2 separate regions of the Homo sapiens genome follow, and region 1 is linked to region 2. The links come from fine-mapping of genetic effects on gene expression. A gene starts in region 2. The other region holds a variant in brackets. All regions are shown on one strand. Distances are from middle to middle.

What was found. PIP is the estimated chance that this variant, and not a neighbour inherited with it, causes the effect. A credible set is the group of variants that fine-mapping cannot tell apart.
Region 1: its variant is the best candidate, but not a certain one, in a credible set for the expression of USP34 in lung (GTEx, PIP 0.74).

Annotation. Positions count from the first base shown.
Region 1 is chr2:61,238,593-61,241,498 of GRCh38, reverse strand. All of the region lies in intron 53 of USP34 (ubiquitin specific peptidase 34), which reads left to right. Among named protein-coding and RNA genes, the nearest start is that of C2orf74-AS1, 62 kb to the right of the region's middle. The variant C/TCTTC (reference allele first, on the strand shown) is at 1,254.
Region 2 is chr2:61,469,760-61,472,665 of GRCh38, reverse strand. USP34 (ubiquitin specific peptidase 34) reads left to right here and starts at 1,579. Exons shown (of 80, transcript NM_014709.4): 1 at 1,579-2,016. The coding sequence starts at 1,974. USP34-DT (USP34 divergent transcript) reads right to left here and starts at 1,570. Exons shown (of 3, transcript NR_185882.1): 1 at 1,287-1,570. RefSeq lists silencers at 1,328-1,637, 1,668-1,747, 1,838-2,257.

The sequences.
Region 1 (2,906 bases), 230 kb after region 2:
ACTGTAGTGTAAGAACAGGTTCTACAGGTTGATATCTGCAATTCTGAGTAGATCTTAAGAGTATTTACAAATAGTCTTGGTAATACTGATATAAGACCCGTAAATGAAAATGAATGAGATTAAATGGAGTAGAAAATATCACTAAAAGAGAGTAGGCGACTGGGTGTGGTGATTCATGCCTGTAATCTCAGCACTTTGGGAGGCCGAGGTGGGTAGATCACGAGGTCAGGGGTTCAAGACCAGCATGGCCAAATGGTGAAACTCTGTTTCTCCTAAAAAATACAAAAAGTAGCCGAGCGTGGTGGTGGGCGCCTGTAATCCCAGCTGCTTGGGAGGCTGAGGCAGAGAATTGCTTGAACCTGGGAGGCGGAGGTTGCAGTGAATGGAGATCACACCACTGCACTCCAGCCTGGGTGACAGAGCAAGACTCCATCTCAAAAAAATTTAAAAAGGTGGCAGAAAGGTTGAGGGAATCAGAGTGACTTAACAATTTGTGAGGTTAGTAATGTTTTGCTTCTTAGATTGGATGATGGGTTTGTAAGTGTTCCTTCTGTTGTGTCTCATGATACAGACCCATGCCCTCAAGCATGCATTGTAATTGAAATGCCATTAAAATGTATTTTACACCCAGGCGCAGTGGCTCATGCCTATAATCCCAGCACTTTGGGAAGCTCAGACAGGTGGATCACGTGAGGCCAGGAGTTTGAGACCAACCTGGCCAACATGGCAAAACTGCAGCTGTACTAAAAATACAAAGATTAGCTGGGTGTATTGGTGGGCACCTGTAATCCCAGCTACTCAGGAGGCCTAGGCGAGAGAAGCCCTTGAACCTGAGAGGCGGAGGTTATAGTGAACCGAGATCACACCACTGTATTTCAGCCTGGGCAACAGAGCAAAACTCTGTCTCAAAAAAAAAAAATGGGCTGGGCGCGGTGGCTCATGCCTGTAATCCCAGCACTTTGGGAGGCCGAGGCGGGCGGATCACGAGGTCCGGAGATTGAGACCATCCTGCCTAACATGGTAAAACCCCATCTCTACTAAAAATACAAAGAATTAGCTGGGCATGTTGGCGGGCGCCTGTAGTCCCAGCTACTCGGGAGGCTGAGGCAGGAGAATGGCGTGAACCTGGGAGGCGGAGCCGAGATCGCACCACTGCACTCCATCCTGGGCAACAGAGTGAGATACTGTCTCAAAAAAAAATGTATTTTACATATTAAGGAATACAAATGTGTTCATTTGTAGTTATGAGGCTT[C/TCTTC]ATTTCAGAATGTTGTAAGTAGTAATAGTACATTATTGAGTACATAACTGAATGTGTTTTGGTTTGGTGTTAGGAATTCAGTCAGCCAAAAACACAAAAAAGCAAATCTTCTCCAGAAATGCACACCTGATTAAATTGTATGCATTTGTCTAGGCAATTCAGCTTTTACTATCTGGATAAAAAAAAAATTTTTTTTTTGTAATATTGGGATCAAGTCTTTTTTTTTTTTTTTTTTGAGAAGGAGTCTCGCTCTGTCGCCCAGGCTGGAGTGCAGTGACGGGATCTCAGCTCACTGCAAGCTCCACCTTCTGGGTTCATGCCATTCTCCTGCCTCAGCCTCCCTAGTAGCTGGGACTACAGGCACCCGCCACCACACCCAGCTAATGTCTTTTTTGTATTTTTAGTAGAGAGGGGTTTCACTGTGTTAGCCAGGATGGTCTCAATCTCTTGACCTCCTGATCCGCCCATCTCGGCCTCCCAAAGTGCTGGGATTACAGGATTGTTCTCAAATGCTTTTAACTAGTATCTTGCCTGCACATGTGTTAATGGTAAAAAGCCAGGAATGTTGTCTTTTTTCAATTCCATGAATTGGATTTAGCAGCTGAATTAGATGGTATTCATTATAAATGGCTTCATTAGATTTGAAGCTACTAAACTTACCTATTTGTATAAAAATTTATCTCAATCATCATCATAACCACAATTAATTTGAATCATTTTTGTGCACAGCCTTTTGCCCTAAAGATATTAGACAAATCTAGACCTTGCTTTATATAAGTACCCAACAGTGTTTAATGACAATTAGCCCACTTGTGAAGTAAAATGAAATTTTAAATAAAACCTTTACAATGATGATGTATTTTGTTTATTTACATCAGTGGTTCTCAAACTTCTGTGTGTGTGTGTGTGTGTGTGTGTGTGTGTGTGTGTGTGTGTGTGTGTGTGACAGGGCCCTCATTTAAAGTGAGGAAGCTTAATCATTTCTAGCTTTTGATTTAAGGTGAAAGATGTGTGACTCCTCCTTTTACTGGATACAGAGAGGCCATTGTAGGGTTGTTAATTGGCCTAATTCCAGTATTGTCTCAGAGAATATGGAGGCCTGAGGAGAGGGAGAAAGTGAACAGCTACTCGGTGCAGTCAGAACACACACAACATGTATTAAGTTTGCCGTCTTATATGGGTGTAGTTCGTGGTACCCTGAAACAATCACAACAGTAACATCAAAAATCATACTGGTTATAGATCACCATAATAATATAATATATAATAATATATAATAATGATGAAAATGTTTGAAATATTTCAGGAATTACCACAGTGTGACAGAGACAGAAAGTGAGCACATGCTATTAGAAAAATGGTGCCAATAGACTTGCTTGATTGCAGGGCTGCCACAGCCCTTCAATTTGTTTAAAAATACAGCATCTGCAAAGTGCAGTAAAGTGAAGCACAATAAAATGAGATATGCCTGTACATTAGAAAATTCCTCATTGCAGACCTAAGCCAACAATTTTTTCTATAATTGTTCCAGCTTACTATTTTTAAATGGGTGTGCCTACATGTTTTCTTAAAATTAAATTTAAAATGTAAAATACTGTGTACATGAATATTAATATGGTTTTAGATATAAACCAGAATGTGGTTTTTTAGATT
Region 2 (2,906 bases):
AGGAGTTTGAGACCAGCCTGGGTAACATAGCAAGACCCTGTCCCTACTAAAAATAAAAAACAATTAGTTACGTGTGGTGGAGAGCGCCTGTAGCCCCAGCTACTAGGGAAGTGGGAGGATCCCTTGAGCCCATAAAGTGGAGGCTGTAGTGAACTGTGATCGCACCACTGCACTCTAACCTTGGCGACAGAGTGAGACTTTGTCTCAAAAAAAAAAAATTCAAATAAAAATAATTGGGGTTGTGTTGGCAGGGAAAAAAGGGATACGTGGGAATGTATGTTGAGTGGACAACGAATGTCTGCCTCAGGATCCAAAGTAAGTCTGCAAAAACCCAATTCTGTGAGAAAGACAAGGAAGAAGGGAAGATGATGGTAGAATAGAACTACAATCCTAAGGATCACCTGCTAGTGGGAAACAAAACGGGTTGGGCAGACTGTTTATAGTATCAACTTCAAGCAGCAGAAAGGCAAAGCATTTGGAACCAGGTGGTTCTGGCATGGAGAGATGGGCGTGCCATAACCTCCACAAAAGCTATCGAGAGAATGACTACAGAGCCTTGACAGACACTCTGGTTACCGTTCAGAGATTCTGTACACGATCTTTCGGACTTTGCAGTCACATGTCTATGTAAACACGTTGAACACAAAAATTAGCAAGCAAGGGGTAAGTGCCGGCGTGAGGAAAATTCCCTTACAAGCTTCAGCTGACTGCCCCCTTCACCTGTTCTTTATCTTAATATCCTTGTTATTCGCTCTCTGCTGAAGAAGATTTCTTGCTATTTCAGGTGGGGCTGATGGGCACATCGTGAGGGGCCCTCTTCCGTAAAAACGAGACGATGTCAGGCAAACACTCCTTACCCTGCCATTTCTAGTTACGTCAAGGATCTTACTGCTCCAGGACGGAGGACCTTCAAGGAACTGCAGGGTAGCGATAATCACCGATGCAGTTAAGCCGGGCCCTGGGCTGATTCACTCTCAGACCCCGGGGGGAGTGGCCCTTGCGCCCGAAAGAGGGCTACGGCGTAGACCCGGCCCGGCACCCAAGTTGACTCCTTGCTTCCCGTACCCCAAAAGCCTAAGCGCGGAAGAGGCCGGGGACACCAAAGAAACCCGCACCAACTCCCCGACCCAGGCCCTGGGGAAAAATGGCGAAGCCCAGGGGCGGGGGACAGGACGGAGCGAGTGACCTGGCGCTCCCCGGGCCTCAGAGCCCGTGGAGTGGGTCGTGGTGGGCGACGCCACGCAACCGCGACCCGTCCGTTGCCTCCGCCATCTTCTCCTACTCACCCGGACTCCCCCCGCGGCCGCGCTGGCTTCGCGTTTCCCTTCCGGCCGCTGACAGAGATCCGGGCTGGGCGGGGTGGGCGAGCGCGCGGAGGGGGTGGACCGAGGGCGGGGAGGCCGGACGGAAGAGGAAAGGGAGGGCGGCGAGCCGGCCACGGCGGGGTGTGGAGCGTGCGGCGTGTGTGCGGAGGGAGAGGTGGGGGGCGGAGGAGAGGCGAGAAAGGGAGGGAGGCGGAGGAATGAGAGCGCGAGGCGCCTCTCGTCCGCTCCTAAGCCCGGGCGGAAAGAGCCGAGCGCAGCCCGAGCGCTCTGTTAAAATGGCGGCGGCGTCGGCGGTGGCCGCGGCGTCTGGTCGGTGAAGTGACTCTGCTGCTTCTCTCCCCACCCGCCCCCTCCCCCCCTCTCCCCTCCCCCCGTCCTTCCCCCCCTTCCCCGCCGCCGGCGCCTCGGCGCCCCTCCGGCCTGCGCACCTCCCCTCGCTCCCCTCCTCTCCCCCTCCCGCTGCGGGGACCGCCGGCCCCCTCCCCCATTCTCTTGCTCCCCGCCCCGTCCCCGCCGCCGCCCGCCCTAGTCGCCTCCCCGCCCCGCCGGCCGGCCGGCCCCCTCCTCCGCCTCTCTCCCCTCCCCCCCGCCGGTCGGGATCAGTCAGTGTGATCCGAAGCGGGGGAGGGGGGGGGCGGCGGCCGAACGATGTGCGAGAACTGCGCAGACCTGGTGGAGGTGTTAAATGAAAGTAAGTAGCCGCGGTAGCGGCCTGTCGGGGTGCACGGTTTGGGGTCCTCGCGCAGCTCTCTGGCCTCCCCGGGCTGCCGCGGCCTGCGGGAGGCGACGGCCGGGCCGGGCGGCGTGCGGGCCTAGCGCCCCGGGAAGGTGCGCGGTGGCGCGGCCGCCGCGGCGCCTCGGGCCCAGCCCGGCCGGGTTACCTGGGCGCCCGAGAGGCGGCCGCCGCGGAGCTCCGGCTCGGCCTGGCCCGGGCGCTCTGGGCTCTCGGAAAGTTTCCTCATTACAGGTGTCAATTAATGAAGGCAGTAATGAACCCCTCGCCGCCTTCGCCTCCTTCGCCCTGCCGGGAAGGTGCGGGGAGGTGGGGTCGGAGGACGAGGCTTTCCTCCGCAGTCCAAATCCTCCGGCCGCCCTCTTTGATTTCCAGCGTGCTGCCGAGGCCTCTCTTACCTGCTAATTTTCATTAAACTCCCGGGAGCAGGGTGGTGGTTTTTCCCTCCCTTGCGGGTTTGTGGGTGTCTTAAACACTTCAGCCAGACCTTAAATAGCTGAAAACGAACTGTGATAGTGATGATTGGAACCTTCATACCTATTTTTAAAATAAATTTGTTAATGATGTTTCTTAGTGTAGCATTCACCGCTTTAATGGTACATTCTGTTAAGCAGAGCACTGTACTACACATACCATCCCGGGATAGTTATGGCCTATCTCTCTTGGAAGGAAAGGCCTTTTACCTGGTACTTTACTTTTTATTATTAAAAAGGGTACGTTGATCTTTTCTGGCCTTTTTATTTTATTCTCGACCCTTGCAAGATGGTATTTCAGCTTATAGAAGATATATTGCAAATCAACTACTTCTGGGCGTAAAGGCCTAGTTGGCAGAGGTGAATTAGATGAAG